Linked DNA regions of Homo sapiens. The protein of the gene in region 2 interacts with the protein of the main gene of each other region in a biochemical or structural test. Each region holds a gene or a part of one and is shown on either strand. Other genes may lie near its edges.

Evidence for each region. The genes of interacting proteins can lie anywhere in the genome.
Region 1: the proteins of STON2 (region 2) and EPS15L1 interact in a biophysical measurement, tested with the Homo sapiens proteins (one study listed by IntAct).
Region 3: the proteins of STON2 (region 2) and SYT2 form a complex in vitro, tested with the Homo sapiens proteins (one study listed by BioGRID).

The regions. Positions count from the first base shown.
Region 1 is NC_000019.10:16,419,971-16,426,996, forward strand, and holds part of EPS15L1 (epidermal growth factor receptor substrate 15-like 1), read right to left. Parts: intron 5,347-7,026; coding exon 5,113-5,346; intron 1,507-5,112; coding exon 1,349-1,506; intron 1-1,348.
Region 2 is NC_000014.9:81,278,322-81,285,347, reverse strand, and holds part of STON2 (stonin-2), read left to right. Parts: intron 1-6,608; coding exon 6,609-7,026. UniProt on the Homo sapiens protein: Adapter protein involved in endocytic machinery. Involved in the synaptic vesicle recycling. May facilitate clathrin-coated vesicle uncoating.
Region 3 is NC_000001.11:202,700,455-202,707,480, forward strand, and holds part of SYT2 (synaptotagmin-2), read right to left. Parts: intron 1-7,026. UniProt on the Homo sapiens protein: Exhibits calcium-dependent phospholipid and inositol polyphosphate binding properties. May have a regulatory role in the membrane interactions during trafficking of synaptic vesicles at the active zone of the synapse.

The DNA of each region.
Region 1 (7,026 bases), on a different chromosome or scaffold from region 2:
TCAGCGGCCATCCGGCTCTGACACCACATCCTGCTCTGCTGACCCGTACGGTGGCAGCCATCGCAGGGAAAAAGCCTCTGTCTTCATGCTCCCCCTCCTCCCAGTCCCTCCTGGTGTGTCATCTACATTGGGCCATGCCCCGCCCCAGCCACTCGCAGACACATCTAGACTTCTTTTCTCATGGTTATTCAAGAGCCTGATCATCCTTTCCTTCCCCTTTGCTGCCCGCATGGAATGACCTCTGAGTTCCTTCTTTTGATCCAGGTGGATTAGTGATTTCCTGTGTCATTTCCATGTCATTACATCATGTGTCAATTGCAGCATGCATTATAAATTACTTTCCCTCTACTGACCCCTAGACATGACAGTCAGGGTGTCAGGGCGCTAACCAGGAACTGTATGTGTGTTGGTTTCAGAGTCATAAAGGGGACACTGTGTTTTGTTGGTTTCTAAAAGGGACACTGGATCTGAGGCAGCTGAGACCCACTGTCCCTAGCCAGTTGGAGGCGGCTTGGCCATTTGGGTGATGACTCTGCGACAGCTAGTTCTCAGGCTCCCACCTCACAGTGTGGTCATCTGTGAATTACCACTAAGGACAGTCATTTCCCCCAAGCCACTAAGTAACATCCTGAATTTCACTGCTCTACTTGGAGGTATTTGCCTCTCGAGAATTATCCAGCAATTCTTTCCTTTTGATAGCTCCCAAGTGAAGCCTTCTCTAAGGCCACAAGGCTCTGAGCAACAAGCTCAAAAGTGACTTCAGCCCTGGCCAGTGGCAAGAGGAGTGCCCCAGCCCTATGAAGTCGGCTGTGTCCAGCCCTGGGGGAAAGAGGGGTTGAGGCCGACTCCTCGACTGGGCTCTGAGGCACTGACAGGGTCTCCTTGTGCTCACCCTCCCGCCAGGAGCCAAAGCACTGGCCTTTCCAGAGCAGGGCCTCCTGCCCCCGCCCTCACCCTGCCAGGCCACTCTGCTAGAGGCTCCAAGGCCCTGCTGCCCGCACCTCCCGGAGGCGGCTGTGACAAAGTCCAGGCCTCCTGTTAGAGCCAGCATCACAGCCAGCAAGAATAGGGCCCAGCTGTGTAAGCAAATGGCCTGGGAGCACTTAAGACGGACCAGAGGCCCTTCCTACTGAAAGACAGTGAACTGACCGTCACGGAGCGCGGGCTTCGAGCCTTGGCACGTGCACCTTGCTCAGCCTCTGTCAGGCCAGGGAGAATAAAGGACGCCAGACACAGCGGAAGCCTGTGACAGGCTGGAGGGGGCCCCCTGACCACCACCCTCCACAGTCTTCACCCACAGGCCCCCTGGAGCCACCCACAGCCACAACTGCCACCTGTCCGGCCTTACCATATGTGTGCTAGAAGGTTCTGGGTGAGGCCCGAGTGCATGAAGATCTCCTTCACCTCCTGGCCACTCACGTAGCCATCCAGGTCCAGGTCGGTCTTCAGGAATATCTCATCAAATCGCATCTTGTCTGCCACGGGCACCACCCAGTTCACTGTTGGCTGAAACAGTTTTTGGCAAAACAGTTAATCTGGAAGCTTTTTATGACCCCCAGACACATGCTTTTTGATGATGGGGCGATTAAAGCACTTCCATGCACATTTGGCATCAAACTCTCCTCACTTCCATGAGCCAAGAGGGCAGATGTGATCCTTGTTCTGTAACTGGCAAAACTGAGGCTGAGACAGGTTGAGGCTGGCTCTGTGAAGCTCACCCAGATGCCAGTCTGCACCTCTCTCCACCCCATCACCCGCTCTCCTTGTCCATCCACCCTGCCACCCAGGGTGTGAGGGAGGCTGTGATCTTCAGGGGATGGGTTCAAGCATGCCAGGAAAGACCCTCCCGAGCACCCACTTGGAAGGACCGTCCCTGGAGAACCGGCCCGGCCACATGCCAGCCTCCCTGGTCCTCCCACTCCTCAGCCCGCAAAGGCTGCCCTACAGGCAGCCAAAGTGTCCTGTCCCAGGACTCTGAAGACCACCCTTCTATGTCCCTGCCCCACTCCTGAGACAACAAAGATACCCCCAAGGTGTGAGTACACACACGTCACTGACAGGTAACAAATGAGACACCACCATCCAAGAGGGCCACCACCCACGAGGCCCCACCAACATTCATGCAGCCCCAACCCCACCAGGGCAGATGGAGCCACGAGCCCAGTGCAGCTCAAAGTTCACAGCCCTGGGGCTGGGTCACCCGCTGCACGTGCGACCCCTCTCGCCACCAGCTCACAGTTAACTTGAGAGAGGCAAACGCCATCATGGGTCAACCAGGGCCCGGTCACCTCCTGGTTCAGAGGCATTGAGGCCCCTCAGGCACTCAGGGGCAGGCCCCTTCCGTGGCCTACTCCACCTGCATTACCGCGGGCCTTCAATACACCCACCACGCCACAGTTCACGGCATCTGTGTCCTGAACTCTAGACGTGCTTTTCCTCTTCCCTTTTTTTTTAAATATTTACACAAATCACTCCTTTTAAACAATCTCATAATAGCAATGAGAATAAACACCTGATTGAATTATCTAGATGATGAGGGAGTGGAGAGAAAAAGGACAGGCAAATGTGGCTGGAGGGATCGATTGTTCCTTCTCCACGCAGCAACTGTACAGAAAAGCCACTCCACTCCTCACCTTCAATGAACGCCATGATGCCTGAAACTGCCACTCAAAGTCATTCCTCTCAGTTATGAAAGGATTTCTTAGGCTGGGTGCAGTGGCTCACACCTATAATCCCAGCACTTTGGGAGGCTGAGGTGGGTGGATCACCTGAGGCCAGGAGTTTGAGACCAGATTGGCCAACATGGTGAAACCCCCTCTCTACTAAAAACACGAAAAATTAGCCAGGTGTGGTGGTAGGCACCTGTGATCCCAGCTACTCAGGAGGCTGAGGCAGGAGAATTGCTTGAACCTGGGAGGCAGAAGTTGCAGGGAGCTGAGATTGTGCCACTGCACTCCAGCCTGGGCGACAGAGCAAGACTCCGTCTCGGGGAAAAAAAAAGGGGGGGGGGATTTCTCAAAGAGTTCTCACAGTGTTGACAACCCGAAGATGTCCATAGGATTGAGGAGAAGGGACTCATGGTCAAGACTGGGAAACAATGGTTAAACTCGTTTACTCTTCATGAACGAGTCTCCTGTGATGTCCAAATCTAACAGGCTCCTGATACCAACTCAGGGAAATCAGAAAGCAAGCTTGGGAAACAAGGGATACCATGTGACCCAGATCAGCTTAGTTCAGGGGTTTCACGTAGCAAGTATGTGTGATGAAGTACAGCAAGGACTTGATCAAACAATTTATCAAAATCCATGGAGCTAGGCCAGGCACAGTGCTCATGCCTGTAATCTCAGCACTTTGGGAGGCCAAGGCAGGAGGATCCCTCAAGCCCAGGAGTTCAAGACCAGCCAGCATAACACAGCAAGACCCCATCTCTACAAAATAAATAAATAAATAAAATTAGCTAGGTGTGGTGGCATCCACCTATTCCAGCTACTAGGGAGGCTGAGGTGGAAGGATCACTTGAGCCCAGGAGGTTGAGATAGCAATGAGCCGTGATTGCACCACTGCACTCCAGCCAGGGCAGCAGAGCAAGATCCTGTCTCTTATATATTTAAAAAAAAAAAATCTATGGATCTAATTCAAATGATGAGAGTTCAGATGGCAAGAGCAACCTGATTTTTACTTGTGGCATTGTACTGTGTAAATTTTGTGAGCCTTCTCAAGTCTGGTGGACGTAAAGATGCCAATAAAGGAATTCTAATGAGAAATGGGCTTGCTGCCTTTTAAGTCACGGAGCTACAGCAAGCTAACCTCAGAAGCCAGGGATCACAAAGAGGTAACAGGAGTCAGACAAGCTGAGCTGTGGCGGGACACAGAAACAAGGGGGGTTCTGTGTCCCACGGGTCCCAAGAAGAAATTACGTATGAAATTATAGCTCTGGGATGACAAGAGTCCTAATAATACTTGCTGGGCAAACAAAAGGAACTCACTGCCTGATTTCTGGAGCCTCAGAGTATGTTAGCAGCAAGATTCTGATGCCAAATTGACTATAAACCCAACACGGGGCAGCCTTGCCGTGGAGCTGGCTCTCCCAGTGACAGCTGGGCTTTAAGGCCGGCTCAGCAGCCACAGGTCCCAAAGGAAGGATATCAGACCCTGGTGGCTGGAAGTGGCTTCACTCAAACCTGGCATGAGGGCAAAATCGGGTGGCCCTTGGGAGGCCCAGACAAGAGCATTGCTGGCCTGGAGATGAGGAAGTTGGAGTAGGGGGAGCATGTGGACTGTAGGCCCCCAGAAATGCTCGTTTTCATGACTGTGATCCTACCAATGCCGTCGTGGGGGCAGGAGCTATACCCTCCCACCCCACCCCACCAGGGGCCACTGGTAAAATCGGTCTAGTCAGAGGGTCTTGAGAGAACCACCAGAAGATCACTAGAGAGGTGGGTTATGACGCTGGGTGACCTGTGCCTACCAGTGAGTTTGGCCCCACTAGCTTCGTTGCCAGTAAAGTACCTCCCCTAACCTGACTTTCAAAACTCTTGGCAAGAGCTCTGCAGACACAGGCTGGGCACGGTGGCTCACACCTGTAATCCCAGCACTTTGGGAGGCCGAGGCAGGAGGATCACTTGAGCCAAGGAGTTCAAGACCAGCCTGAGTAACATAGGGGAGACCATGTTGAAATAATGAGATAAATGAATACTTTTTTTTTTTGAGATAGAGTTTCGCTCTTGTTGCCCAGGCTGGAGTGCAGTGGCGCGCTCTCAGCTCACTGCAACCTCCGTCTCCCAGGTTCAAGCAATTCTCCTGCCTCAGCCTCCCGAGTGGCTGGGATTACAGGTGCGCACCACCACACCCAGCTAATTTTTTTGTATTTTTAGTAGAGACGGGGTTTCACCATGTTGGCCAGGATGGTCTTGATCTCCTAACCTTGAGATCTGCCCACCTCGGCCTCCCAAAGTGCTGGGATTACAGGCGTGAGCCACCGCACCTGGCCACAAGCATTTTTTAAAGACATTTCATCACAAGCTTGACCGTTCTGGGGTTGCATGTTAAGAACTCCCGAGAAACATCCTACTGTGCTCTGAGAGGGGGCTGTGCCCGCTGAGGGCTCCGTACCTGTGTTTGCTTGAGGCTGTGCTTGGGGGACAGGCTCCCTGTGCTGTTGAGGCTGCTGACGCTGCCGTGGGACGGCGTGGAGCGGAGGCTGTCTTTTGGTGGGGGGCTGGCAGGCAGGACGGGGACGGCGCCAGGGAACACAGTCTTCTTTCTCTTGGAGGGTGGGATGAGGGACGGGGGCAGGGCGGAGGGCACGGGCTCCTTCTCCAGGGCTCGGTACACCAAGTGCATGGCCTGCAGGTGCAAACAACAATGGCACTGAAGGGGCAAGGCTGGGGCCGGGACCATCAGGAGAAGGCAGAGGGCAGCCCTTTGGGGGCTGCAGTGACAGGACACTCTGTCAGGACGCTCCCAAGCTGACCAGAGTGAAAAGAAATCATTCCTCATGAGTTATCTTTTATGTGTAACTTTCCAAGACATGTGTTGAATTATTCCTCGAGACTGAAATGCACACAGAAAGAATCCAATCAAGCCAGACTCCATATGCATCCCTTCACCACTCAGGGAGGCCACCAGCTCCAGGGCTGGCACCTTCCCAGTACTGGATTTGGAAGTCTAAAGACACCAGAAGAGAGACCTGTACTTCAAGACGTTCAGGAGTAGTCCCAGCTACTTGGGAGGCTGAGGTGGGAGGATTGCCTGAGCCCAGGAGATGGAGGCTGCAGTGAGCTGTGATCGCGCCACTGCACTCCAGCCTGGGTGACAGAGCGAGACTCTGTCTCTATAAAACAAAACAAAACAAAACAAAAAACAGTGGAACTGAGGATGCATCCATGAGGCAGGCCACAGCCATAGAAATAAATTCCTTGTGGAAGGCCAACTAATAAAAGTGCAAGGAATGATGGTTTTGATTAGCACATCACCATTTGGCAGCCACCATCATCATAATTAATCTTGCCAGATTAAGGCGAGACTCATCAGCGATGGTGGAACTCTCATGGAAGAGTCTGAGAGTCATGGGTGTTGACCGTATCAAGGCGTGCCCCACATGAGATGAACTGAGCACAGAGGGAAAAAGAGCAACTGCCCACAGGAACCCACAACCTTGACCCACCTTGACCCAGTGATGAATGTCAACATGGCAGTAAGAAGACATGTTGACATCACGTTCCCCCAGGTGGGAGGCCCATGTGGGGCGGGTGTGACCTCCGTGGGATTCCTGTCTCACAAGAGTGCATGACCTGGGTCATCAAGAGGACCTGGCAGCCAGGCCCAGGCCTAGGAACACTCCATAACTGCTGGCCTGTGCTCTTCAAAATGTCCACGTTGAAACCAGGCATGGTGGCTCATGCCTGTAATCTCAGCACTTTGGAGGCCGAGACGGGCAGATCACCTGAGGTCAGGAGTTCAAGACCAGCCTGGCCAACAGGGAGAAACCGCATCTCTACTAAAAATTCAAAAAAAAAATTAGCTGGCTGTGGTGGTGGGCACCTATAATCCCAGTTACTTGGAAGACTGAGGCAGGAGAATCGCTTGAATCCAGGAGGTGGAGGATGCAGTGAGCTGAGATCATGCCACTGCACACCAGCCTAGATGACAGAGTGAGACTCCCTCTCAAAAACAGAACAACGACAACAAAAAAACAAAAAGTCCACGTCAAGAGACACGAAGAGCGATGGAGGAACTGTTCTAGATCCCAGGAAACGAAAGACAAAAGACAACAGGATGTAACACACAGGACTGGGTTCTCTTTAGACACAAGGAACATTTTTGGGACAACTGATAAAATCTGAGTAATATCCTGGGATTAGATAATAATAGACACGCTCATACAGAATATAAGGGGTATATACAGGATATAATGAAAACATCATAAATGCAATGCTATGATGTGAATTTCCTGATTTTGAAGTGGATAATGGTTATGTGTGAGAGAAGTCCTTGTTTTTAGGAAATACGCACTGAAGTGTTTGT
Region 2 (7,026 bases):
AGGCTTGGAATCAACTTTTACAAACTCCTGTGAATGTTAACTTCTCTCATGAATCACAGATGTTTGTAATGGCATCTAGAATGATGAATCCTTTCCAGGAGGTTGTCAGTTTACTTTGCCCCAATCCATCAGAGGAATTACTATCTATGGCAGCCTTACAAAATGTATTTCTTAAATAAGAAGACTTGAAAATCACAATTACTCCTTGATCCATGGGATAGAGAATGGATGTTGTGTTCCACGGCTGCAGGCATGAAAACAACATTAATCTCCTTGTACATCTCTATCAGTGCTCTTGGGTGGCCAGGTGCATTGTCAGTGCGTAGTAATATTTTTGGAAGGAACCTCTTTTTTCTGAGCGGTAGGTCTCAACCTGGGCTTACAATATTCAGTAATTCCTGCTGTAAACAGATGCGTTGTCATCCGGGCTTTGTTCTTCCATTGACAGAGCACAGGCAAGGTAGATTTGCATAATTCTTAAGGGTGCTAAGATTTTTTGAATGGTTAATGAGCAATGGCTTCAACTTAAAGTCACCAGCCACATTGGCCACTAGCAAGAGAGTCAGCCTGTCCTTTGAAGTTTTGAAGCCAGGCATTGACTTTTCTCTAGCTATTAACATCCTAGATGGCATCTTCTTCCAGTAAAAGGCTGTTTTATCTTCAGTGAAAATCTGTTGCTTAGTGTAGCCACCTTCCTCAATTATATTAGGTAAATATTTTGGATAACTTGTTGCAGCTTCTACATTAGCACTTGCTGTTTGACCTTCTACTTTTATGCTATGGAAATGGCTTCTTTCCTTAAACCTCATGAACCAACCTCTGCTAGCTTTATTTATTTATTTATTTTTTCTGCAATTTCCTCACCTCTTTCCACTTTCATAGAATTGATGAGAGGTAGGGCCTTCCTCTGAATTAGGCTCTGGCTTAAGAGAATGTTGTCACTACTTTCTTATCATTCATGTGTTCACTGAAGTGGCACTTTTAATTTCCTTTGAGAAGTTTTCCTTTGCATTCACAACTGGGTTAACTGGCATGGAAGGCCTAGCTTTTGGCCTGTCTCCGCTTTTGACATGCCTTGTTCACTAAGCTTACTCATCTCTCACTCTTGATTGAAAGTAAGAGACATATAACTCTTCATCTGAATACTTAGAGGCCATAGTGGGATTCTTAATTGGCCTAATTTCAATATTGCTTTGTCTCAGGGAATAAGGAGGCCTGAAGAAGAGAGAGAGAGAGATAGGGGAATGGCCAGACTGTGGAGCAGCCCAGAACACACACATTTTATTGATTAAGTTTACCATCTTATATGGGCACAGTTTATGGTGCCCCAAAACAGTTACAATAGTATCATCAAAGATCACAGATCACTGTAACAGATATAATTATAGTGAAAATGTTTGAATGTTGCGAGAATTACCAAAACGTGACCCAGAGACAGAGTGAGCACGTGCTGTTGTAAAGATGGTGCTGACAGACTTTGGGTTGCCACAGATCTTCTAGTCATAAAAAATGCAGTATCTGCTGGGTACAGTGGCTCACGCCTGTAATCCCAGCACTCTGGGAGGCCGAGGCGGGCGGATCATGAGGTCAGGAGATCGAGACCATCCTGGCTAACACAGTGAAACCCCGTCTCTACTAAAAATACAAAAATTAGCCGGGCGTGGTGGCAGGCACCTGTAGTCCCAGCTACTCAGGAGGCTGAGGCAGGAGAATGGCTTGAACCCGGGAGGCGGAACTTGCAGTGAGCCGAGATAGCGCCACTGCATTCCAGCTTGGGCAACACAGCGAGACTCCATCTCAAAAAAAAAAAAAAAAAATGCAGTATCTGTAAAGTGCAGTACAAAAAGACGAGGTATGCCTTTATATGCTGTTATGTAACAGTCACTGCTCTTGCATGTTTAGAAGCCTGCAGTGATGTTAGAACATTTGTTCTTGCCACTCCTAATAAATTCCAGTGAACATTTGTCAATATGGTTTTTTTACAAATTAGGTTAACAAATAAGGGAAAGAAGATAGTAGAGTCTCTATGTTCAAAATGTAGACAATTTTCCTGCCATAGTTCTTACTTTTTATTCAGTTTTAGTGGCTTTGACTACTACTGAAATCACTTTATTTAATTTAATCTTTTAGGAGCTTGAAATAGATTGCGGCCTAACATTAAAAGAATCCACCACTTCTCTTTAGTTTGCATCAGTAAAGACACTAGGAACCTCTTAGGTACTGGAAATTTTCCCTGTGGTGTAGACTGAGAACCTAATCCTTACACATGGCTTTTGTTTGGCAGCAGCCCGACTCATAATAAAAACAATTTGGAGGTAGCCAGTGGAAGGGATAGTAATTAAAATAATGCTGGAGTTTGGGTTTTGGTTTTATTTTAATAAATTAGTAAATTGAATTGTGGAGAAGAATTAGCTTTGTGATCAAGATACTTGGTTTTTGCCTATTTCTTACTGGAGAAATTTGCCAGCTTTTCCCCCTCTCATTGTTTCCAGTCCCAGCCACACCAGTCATAATTGTCTTGGGAAAGATCTAACTGCTGCTTTCTCAATACAGACTATAGCTAAGCACTTTGTTTCCTTTCTCTAAGGCTAATTAGTAGTAATAATAAAGAGATGTTTTGAACTTTTATTATAATGCTATGTTGCTTTATTTTGTAAGGAACATTGCAGTTTTTGAAAGAAAGAATACAGATTTCGAATTTTTTAAATCACCTCTTATCCCATGAGAGATTTGTTTTCACATCAAAATATTACGAGATTATTATATTCCAAAGCTTTCTAATACATACGTACTTTCTATAATGACACATTATCATTCTAGTAGTAGTAGTAGTAGTAGCAGTAGTACTAAGAACAGCCTACATCTACTGAGCATTTATTATTTGTCTGGTAGGATTTAATATTTCCCTAATTTAATATATAGGAAAACTGAGATAGAGGGAAATTTAAGACTTGCCTAGAATCACATATCTAAAAAGCCGTAGGTATGGAATTGAAACGCAGGCAATTTGACTGCAGATTTTAGGTGTTTCTTGTTATTCACTCAACAATATGTCCTAGTCAACTTCCGTGTGAATTAACATGCATCAAGAGCATCATCTTGACAGCTACATGGAATTTCATTTTAAGGGTATGACCACTGATGTAACTAGTCTCCCATTGTTGGGCATTCAGGTTTTTTCATGTTTTTCTGTGATAGAAGCATTGCTGTAATAAACATCACTGTGTACATCGTTGCATGCTTGTCCTGTTATTTCCTTAGGATAAACTCTTAGAATTTATTTCTTACAATTCTCAGATTTCTTTAAATAAATTATTTCATAGAAAAACAAAATCTCAATTTCAGAAATTTTACCTATGCCCTGCTACCATCCCAGAGAATAAGTTTTAAAAATACATGCAATTATGGGACATGAAACTGCCAAAGGGAAGATAATTTTGTAACAAAGTCTTTTGATATTTTTTAATGACTGTCAGAAAGAAAATAGAATCCCTAGAAATTAATTGAATTCAAACATTTCCCTTCAAATTTAAAGACACTTGTTTAATTTGTATTATAACTCTAATGCTTCAAAACTGTTTAGGACTTGGCGTGATTTAAACTAACTTGGTTTGAAAAGGAATTTATTGTAAGAAAATGATCTTCAGTAGGGACAAAGGCCTTTTTTTCTCTTTTCATTTTTGGCTTAGAAGATGAGAAGGGCTGTTTTGAGGACAAGATTCCCAACAGAAGGGAATCCTTTGGTGGCAAGTGTAAACAGCTTTGGCAGAAAGCCGCCCTCCAAAGAAAAAGGACTTCAGCTTGTTTTAAACTACAGGGTGAGCTCCAAGACAAAAAGGATAACCCTGATGCCAGGGGTGGGCCAATAGAGATTGTTTGGGTGGAAACACTACATCACAAAGGCTCTCTAGAGCTGCCTCATTAGAAGTTGATGAGTTTTGAGATGTACCCCTTTCCCAGTTCTCTAGACAGGATCAATTACCATTCCAAGGAAGTGATTATATTTCACTCAGGACCACAATGTTCCTTTTAGACTTTGTTACCAAAATGATAAATAAAATATAAATACTGTAAGTGTAGGTTGTTTCCTGACCGTTTTCCCTTCGATTTTCAGAAAATTAATCACTTATACAAAACTGGATTCATGCTTAATTTGAAGGAGATTCTCATCTTTAATTTAAAAATGCTTTAGAATCCTTTTTAGTCACTGTAGATATAGAAAATGCTTTTCGCTCATTTTGTTTCTGGGGTGGGTATGGATATGTGTATATGTATATGCATACTCGTGTTTAGCCTACAGCCTACATTTTCTTTTCTTTTCTTTTTTTTTTTTTTTTGAGACGGAGTTTCGCTCTATCGCTCAGACTGGAGTGCAGTAGCGCCATCTCGGCTCACTGCAACCTCTGTCTCCCAGGTTCAAGCACTTCTCCTGCCTCCGCCTCCCGAATATCTAGGATTACAGGCTTGTGCCACCACGCCCAGCTAATTTTTGTATTTTTAGTAGAGACAGGGTTTCACCATTTTTGCCAGGCTGGTCTTGAACTCCTGACCTCAAGTGATCTGCCCGTCCCGGCCTCCCAAAGTGCTGCGATTACAGGCATGAGCCACCGTGCCCGGCCTAGCCTACATTTTCAAACTTACGTTTTCATTTGAGAGAATTGCTATCTGTTTGAATAAATTACTTGGAAAGATGGGTGACAAGCCAGCATCCCATCCTTGTATAATTATGTGCAATTATGTGCGGCATTGCTGATGGGTGTGGTTGGATGTGATATGCATGAAGATGTAGTGAGGTGGTCAGAAAACTCAGTCATTTGAGTATCCATTTCCCTTTGATTCCAAACAACTGGCCATAGAAACAGTGGGTAGGATGGTAGCAGAGATCCCCTATACCCATTCCTGCAGAGACGTAGAGAATGGAAGAGCTACTCTAAAGCAAAGTTTCTTTTCTCACTTATTTAATCAAAAAACCTTATTGAGTACCTACTATATGCACACATTTGTTGTCTGTGCTGTTCCTTCATCAGAATTCATTCCTCCTTGCTAAAAGCCTCATTTCCCCTCCCTTCCCACAGCCCCAGCAGATACCCACGGTCCTTAGGTTACTGAAAAAGTTTAGATCTTGCCCTCATCAAACCCAAGTCCTGTATCTCTTTCCTTGAAGGCCCTGCTAAAGTGGAGTTTTATTTGTAATAACCTTTTTATCATAAAAAATAAACTTCGAGATGGAAAAATATTTTAGAGAAAAAAAGGAGATTATATCATGAGCATTTTCTCCTGATATACTGCCTACTTGTAAACATTTTAGTGGGTGGGTATTATTTTATTGTAGGCTTCAATTTCTTAACACTCACCCAATTGTTGAATATTTAAAATATTTTTCCCTATTATAAATAATGCCAAAATGGACATCTCTGTTCTTCAAACTTGGTTCATAATTTAGATTTATTTTCTTAGGGTAGAATTACTAAGTCATTGTTTATTAACATGTGTTAAGATCCTTAATATAAATTGCCCAATCTCTTTTCAGAGCATCTGTTGCAACTTAGTTTCACTAAGCATCCACTTAGTGCTCCTATTATGGCACCTTTACCCTCATTGAGCACTAAAATCTTTCAAAATCTTCACTGATTTTTTTTTTTTCATTTTTCATTTTTGAGACAGAGTCTCGCTCTGTTGCCCAGGCTGGAGTGCAGTGGCACAATCTCCGCTGACTTCTATCTCTGCCTCCTGGGTTCAAGTGATTCTCCTGCCTCAGCCTCCCAAGCCGCTGGGATAACAGGTGCCTGCCACTACGCCCAGCTAATTTTTTTGTATTTTTAGTAGACATTGGGTTTCACCACGTTGGCCAGGCTGGTGCCGAATTCCTGACCTCGTGATTTGCCCACCTCGGCCTCCCAAAGTGCTGGGATTACAGGCATGAGCCACTGTGCCCGGCCATTTTTCTTATTACTAGTGAGATTCGATATTTTTCACATACTTACTAGACATTTTTTAGTTTCTCTTTCATGAGTTGTCTATGTTCTTTACTCAGACTTCTTTTGGGGTTTTTGTGTTTTTCTTATTCACATGTATGAACCTACTGAATATTAAGAAGGTTAACTGTTTGTCTTTAATATTTATTCATTATGTTTAGGCTAAAATCCCTCCAAGAATATTATTTATAATCATATTATCACTTACAGACGATAACTTGGTTTTTTTCAGTGAGATGAGCTTATATCATTTTATATAGGAGATGGCTTTCAATGTTTAAAAATTAAGAACACATTCCTCAAAGCTAAGTACAGAACACATCTATTCCAGAAGCTTTTATAAAATAAGGAAGAGTATATAAATTGCAAGAGACCTTGGTACTACCAGTCAATACTTCTGTATTGATATAGCCATTGGGTTCTTATTGCACTTAATGCGATAGCTCCTCTGGGGTGCTCATTACAGAATTGTGAGATCTATGCCCAGACTAAGCACTTGAAACAGATAATGAGCTGCTTTGGAATGTACTGGATTCCAGTTAAAATTCTAGTAATCCCTCATTCCTATACTTCAGTTTTCCTTACCTCTAGAGCCCCTGAACAGTAGCTCATATGTTCTCCTTTTCCTTTTAGACAATTCCTCCTCGCTTCAAGAAGATGAAGAAGTAGAGATGGAGGCCATCAGCTGGCAGGCCAGCAGTCCAGCCATGAATGGGCACCCTGCCCCTCCAGTGACCTCTGCTCGTTTTCCCAGCTGGGTCACCTTTGATGACAATGAAGTCAGCTGCCCTTTACCACCAGTCACCTCTCCTCTGAAGCCAAATACACCACCAAGTGCATCTGTGATCCCAGATGTACCTTATAATTCAATGGGATCATTTAAGAAGAGGGACCGTCCCAAGAGCACTTTGATGAACTTCTCCAAAGTTCAGAAGCTGGATATTTCCTCTTTAAACCGCACGCCTTCTGTAACTGAGGCTTCACCTTGGAGGGCAACCAACCCTTTCCTGAATGAGACTCTGCAGGATGTACAGCCCTCCCCTATCAACCC
Region 3 (7,026 bases), on a different chromosome or scaffold from region 2:
ACCCTCCAAGAGCGTTTTCTTATGTAAGTTAGATCCATCCATAGTTACCATATTCAAAATTAAAACTGAGAAATTTCTAAATTAGCTCAAAATACAATAGTAACTCATTACCTGTTAATACAACATATTTAATAAGTAACTATATTTTCCAAGACCAAAAAAATATATAGTAGACGTTTTCTCTAGTAAAATATCTAGTAAGAAGGAGGCCTTGTTTCACATCATTGCAAATCTCTTTAATGTGTGGTTTACTAGAAGGTAGCTAGAGTTTTATATCAACTTCGGTGTTCGGTCTGTCTGCAATACATTACTTTGATTGAAAGATGAAAGAAAATCCAACCTCACTCAGATATGTAACTGGAAAGGGGAGGGGTATTTAATAAAGCCTTTTCAGATCATTGTGGATATTTTTCTTTGATATGACATCACTGCTCCCCAAGTGGTAGCTTCTTAAAGACTGGCTGCAGTGGGGAATCTGAAACCTTGCACTTGGAATGCTTGTTTGCCTCTGTGCATGATTTTGTGACATCATTCATTTATCATTTCGAAGATATTGGCTTGCCGAATTGTGAAGATCTTTCAAATATTGATGAATTTCATTAAACAATATTAACAAATCACATCTATTACTATTCCCACTGATCTTATCACAAAAGTCCTTTTCATAGTAATATGTGTGAGTTTTCCAAAATTCTAATTTTTGCTTGAAAGCTTAAATTTTATCATTGGCCACAAATACTGCCAGTTGTTTTTCTGGAAGTGACGAGCTCACTTCGTTCATTTTTGCAAAAATGCCTGCTCAACACCCAAGTCTGAATAACTGGAGTTTGTTGGTTGTTCTTTCAGATAAAATGGTATCCCATGGAAAAATGGCTAGTTCAGCCTGCAACTCAAACAGATGCACAGGTGATGGGCACTGTTCAGTTGCTTGAGAAATTATTGTGTAATATTTCTGTAAGAAGCAGAAGTGCTTTATGTGTACTTCTCATTCCATCACAGAGAATATTAAAAAGATGTGCACTCCAGAATCAAGCTTCAATATAATTATAATCTTTGCTGCTTCATGAAAAGAAGACATTCTTAACTGAAAATGGCATTTCATTATTTACCAATTACTTTGCTTAGCGGGTGTGTAGTGTGGAAGAACACAAAGACGGGTGCAGTGTGATACTATTACCTTGATTCATGGTAAGGTGCCAGCAGCTTCACCCACCACTGCTTTAGCACCATCAATGTCAAGCATGGGAATGGCAAATAACTTTATTGCCATCATGGAAACTGCTTTGACCTTATGGACCCCCCTGAAAATTCTTAGGGACTCCCAGGGACCCGTGGCCCCCATCTTGATTACTGCTATAAGGTAAACTTCACAAGGGCCTGTTCCCTGTGTGTTACTGTCTCCATTTTCAGATGAGGACCCCGAAGTTCAGAAAGTTTAAGTAACTTGCCCAGGGTCACACAGGCAGGAAGTGGCAGTCTTGGTTTGACCTAGGCCATCTGACTCCCAGCCACACACACGCTGCTTCAGTTATGCCCTACAGAACATGCTGTGGGGGCCTCTCCTCTGCCCCTTCCCCATTGCCTCACCTCCTGAGGTCTTTGGGGCTCACGATCTACTCCAGGGGAGGCACGAAGACACCTCCAGGTTTGCAGTGGTGAGGACCTGGGCTTCTATTACTGTCTGCCCCAGGGCACCCCTGCCACCCTCTACCAGTAGGAGACCTAATGGGGGTGGAGCACGCCTCCCTGGGAAGCCTCAGACGTCTGGGGCTGGCTTGCCAATGGCAGGCTCAGTTCTTGATGCTTCCCTGCCTCCTGCAGCTGCAGCAGCAGCAACCAGCACAGTTCCCAGCATCAAAGAGCTAATCCAATTTCTCAGCTGTGCTTCCCCCTTCGCCTCCTGCAATGCCAGGATTGATTTGGAAACAGGGCAGCCTTATTAAAGTGATGCCTTTTCCTACTCGTGGGAGAGTCAAACTGGGAGAGGGAGCCCTCCCACAGCCAATTAACTCCATGCTTCCCGCTAACACTGATCCTAGCCACAGCCACCCTTGAGTTTCCTGGGGTTTACCTGTAACTCTTCTTAGCTCCTAGTGGTGAGGATGGATTTCAGTCCTAGGTCTGCTTCCCTCCAAGACCCAAGAGCACTTAACCAATAGGTTCTTGTTCATCCTTCCTGCACTTCTAGAGGGTTGCCTGGGTGGTCCCCTCTCCTCCTGCTTGCAGGCCTCCACCCCGTCTCCTAACATCCCATCTTAGGCCCTATGACCGGGCCGTCACTTGGTCCATCTGAGTTGGTACAATGAAAGATACATGGCAGACAGCCCCAAGAGGGATAGAGGTAAAGACCTGTACATTTGTTAAATGGGCTTTTCTCCAAATAAACACAGGAGGCAGAAGACAAGGACAGTCCTCAGAGACCTCTACCACCCTCAGCCCAAGCCCCTCTCCAGGCCCCCCTCCTTGCGGCCTCACAGCTCTCCTCTAATCTAGGGAGTTAAGGTGTAGCAGAAGCAGAGAAGGCCCCGCTCCAGAAAATGCTTCCTTTCTACAAATAGCATAAAAACTGCTTCCCGAGTCACTTTGTAGAAGAGGAAGGACATGCACAACACATCTGGATCATTAGTTCAGACTGGAATCAATGGTGAGGAAAAGAGATTTCTCTCAAACCACCCAGCCCTTAGGGAGCAGAGGTTCTCTGGGAAGGTCTTTGGAGCTCAGAGCACTGGCTGACCTTGGGGAAGGCATTTCTGGTCTGGAAAGGAAAAAATGAGCACCACCTCTTTGACGCTACCACCCTCCCACCCCCGGCCACCGCTCCCCTCCCTCCGCCGCCCATACACATGGCCCTACCCAGCTCAGCCCTGCAATACCACAAATGCCTCATTTGACTTCAGAGGAAAATGGAGCTAAGAGTAGGAGTGAGGAAGGGAGTAAAAAGAAGGGCGGGGGAAGGAACAAGTGGGGAGGGAGAGATGAAGGTACAAGGTACCCTCTCCTGTCTCTCACATGCACACTACTGCAGGTGGTTACAACTCTTTTCTGTTTCTCCACAGCTGAGCAGGAAACTGGGAGAAGAGCCCTTCTCCCCTGCAGCCTCTCCCTCTTGGCCTCCATCACCACTCTCCTAACCCCTGCCAAGCCCTGCATCTGATCCTACCTGAGCTAAAGAAGCAGAAGGTCCGGAGGGAGCCTGTGATTTTTGCCTCGGTCACCTCTTACAAATGCGGTGGGCTGCTGGGCTCGCCCTAACCCTGCATCACCCCCAGGCTGCTCCTTCAGTCTACTCGGGTATGGAAAGGGTTAAGCTCCTCCCATCCCCTCCTTCCTTCATCCCATTTCTCCATTCACTTCTATTTTCCCATATGCCTAGTGCCAAGCTCACAGTTACAACCACTTACACCCTGTATTAAGATGCATGGAATAGTAATGGGTAAATTCCGTCTCTAATTGCAATATTTCCTAATTACTAAATTCCAGAGCCACTGTATCAACCCAATTATGGCAAGTCCTGCCAGAGTTCTCCATGGTCTGAGGACTCCCTGCCTTACTGAGAGGCACCTGACAAATGCCTCGGGGGAGCTTTCCTGACTCCCCACCCAGCTGCTGTCCTCCCCTGGTCCCAGACTGTCCAGTGATGAGGCCCTTGGGCTTCTAGTTTCTCTGCAGGGGATGGGAGGAAGTGAAGCAAGCTTTGTGATTGAGGAAAGCCTTGTGTTGACAGGCGACTATCCTGGGGTTGGAGAGCATCTGGGAGCCCTGTCACTCTGCACCAGCCACCATCAATGCTCCCAGCTTCAGAACTCCACTTTGGGGGCTAGGGGGACCCAGGAGAGGAGGAGAAACAACATGCCCTGGCCTTGGGGAGCGCCCAGGCTGATAGAGGAGACACGGTTATTTTGAGTTCTCCTTTACATCCCAGGTGCCTTTTACAGAGTAGGTGCTTAGTGCATTGGAGTGGAACGTGGAGGAAAAGGCGGGAGGAAAGTAGGAAGTAAGGAAGGAATGGGGTGCTCTGGCTCAGGCTGAGTTTAGACTCTGGCTACACCTGCACGCAAGGGTTGACTTTTGGGCTGTGAGTCCCATAGGGATCTGACTTCTCAGGTCTGGAGTCTCCGAAGGAGAGAAGCAGTCACACACCCACTAACTCCCATTCTCCCTGCCTTTGCAAGGGGCCCTCCTCCCCAGCCCACCCCTAGGACCCTGAATACACACATATGCACACACACACGGCTGCTGGGCTTCAGAGGAGCCGTTTAATTGCCGAGTTGAAACCTGCAAGGGCTTTTGGTGCTGATGACATCAGCATGCCATCACAGATAGGGCTGCTGAGGCTGGAGCAGCTCTGGATTCAGCGGGGTGTCCCATCATGCACTCAAGACTGCCCACCCTGGGGCCTCCCTCCTTGCTTCAGAGCAGGTGTTCCTGAAGGAGGTGCCAGAGCCCTTATGGAGAGCCCAAGGAAACCCAACATCAGGGAGGGAGAGCTGATTCAATTCCTCCAAGGAATCACTGCCTAATTTTTGTAAAGGCTGCTGCCTGATTTAAATCACCCAGCCTCCTGCTTCTACTCAACGCGTTAGTGGCCTCATCCCAAGGACCCGCACCTGTATTCTCGGGCTCCATTTGCCATAGGTAGAGCTGGTGAGAAGCGGCGAGGAGAGGAGGAAGGGTTCTGACCACTCAGCTGCTGTGGCCTGGAAGGCCCCCTGCAAAGTGCCTATGATCTGGGGATTTTGAACAACCACACAACTTCTCTGGGGATTTTGAACCACACAACTTCTCTGGGCCTTTGCCCGTTCATTGTAAAGTGGGGACAGCGATGGCGTAGCCGAGGACTGCAGTGATGAGAGCTTGACCGCCCTTGTGAGCCGCTCTATCCCCGAGCAGGGGAGCAGGAGGCGCAGGGAGGAGCCCTGAGGTTCCCTGTTGTGCGGGACCCACACTGACTTTGCCCTTTCTTATGCCTGATGCTTAGTGTTACTGACAGCAAAAGCTGAAATCCTGAGGTCCCCGGCTAAAGTGACCAAGGAAGGGCCTCTCCTGACTTTACAGCAGCAGGTAACCCCCCTTTCTTTCAGATTTGGAGGCTGCTTGGCCATTTTAATGGACCCTGCTACTCACATCCTACTTCCCTAAGTGTGAGGGGCTTTCAGAATCTAACCTCCTCCCTGGCACTCAGCCAGCAGGGACTTTATCCTCATCAGAAAATGATCCAGGGAGGAAGCTTCTACAATATCTACTGCTCATCTTGGATTTTGGGAGTCCTTTTTTTTTTTTTGAGACCGGATCTCACTGTTTTCCAGGCTGAAGTGAAGTGGCATGACCATAGCTCACTGCAGTCTCGACCTCCTGGGCTCAGGCGATCCTCCTGCTTAACCTGGTGTGCCACCATGCCCAGCTAATTTTTAAATTTTTTGTAGAGACAGGGTCTCCATATGTTGCCCAGCCTGCTCTGGAATTCCTGGGCTCAAGCGATCCTTCTACCTCAGCCTCCCAAAGCGCTGGGATTACAGGTGTGAGCCACTGCACCTGGCCTGGGGAGTCCTTCTGGATGTTTAATTTTAGACCCAGCCTCTCTAGGGGAGGGGGCTGGCAGCTAGGTGTTCCCCTGCCCTCCAGGCTCACAGTGACTCTCAGGTCCCTCTGGGCCTGGATCCAAATTTACCCATCACTCTGGCTACTTCCTTGAACTGTCAGTTCCAGAGATGAAAATGAAGGATTGCTGGGACAAATCCTTCCCAGAAATCAAGCTTTGGCAAGAAAAGACTCATTAGGCATAAAAACCGTCTTCGAGTGAGGGGGATGAAATGCAGGACTGACCACCAAGACGGTGAGGGCAACTCCTTCCCTTGAGTTTTAAGAATATCAAAGGTGGACAGTGCTCCCTGCAGCTGGAGAACCCAAGACAGTGTTGTGTGTGTGGGCAGGAAAAGGAGCACGCAGGCCACCCAAGGATGAAAAGCACTTACTCCTCCCGCGCCAGGCACTGTTCTACACGCTTTACAGGAATTAACCCATTTCATCCTCACCAAGAACAATCTACGTCATAGTTACAAATTTTAGCTCCATTCTACAGATGGCAAGACTAAAAAACAGAGTGTGATTGACTCGCCCAAAATCACAGCAAGTGGCAGAACCAGGATGAACCCTGGCAATCTGGCTGTAGTCACTATACTGCCACTTAGAAAAAAATCTCTGACTTGATGTTTCTCCAATGAAACTATATTATTTATCACAGGCTTCTGGAGTCCAGGAGAAGCCATAACTGAATCCCAGCTTCTCTGGCCTGGCTTCTCTGACTGAGTGGAAGATGAAGAATCAACTTGTTGCCTATGGATGGATTATTCACGTAGGGAATTTAGAACTGCATCTGTCTGGTGGTCCAGGGGCTACTTCTAAAATAACACGAATAGTTATCAGTTCTACAATACTACCCTGAGAGTTAAGCATTATTACCTCTGTTCTTTAGAGAAAACTGTGCAGACATTGTCAGATCATCCTGTTACATGCTCTCGAAGCTTCCTACATACCTTCATAACTCTTGGCACAGTCATGATGAATTCTTTATGTAATTATCTAATTGTGTGGTATTCACTAGATTGTAAATGCCACGAGGGCAGGAAACAGGTCTGTTTTGTTCCCACCTGAATCTCCATTGCCTAGCACAGATTCTCAAAATGCAATAGTGGAACGAATGCAGAAGGGATGCTGAGTGGCTCAGTAACATGTGTAGGGCCTGCGGCTGTGCTCACCTCCCCACCCAGAGAGACTACAATAGTGGCACATGGTAGGTACTCACTAATAAAATACTTGTTGCAAATGTCAGACTTTGTACTTAGCAGCCCTGGGATTTGAACCCAGGCCTGTCTATCTCCTAGCCTCCATTCTTTGGTGCTTCATATTTAACCACTGCACTGAGTGACCCTGCCCCCCCATTACTCCCTCTGACTTGCTGTTCCAGTTCTTAAAGAGTATCCCCACCACCCTGGACCTTCAGTGGTGGGGATACTCTGGCTTCAGCTA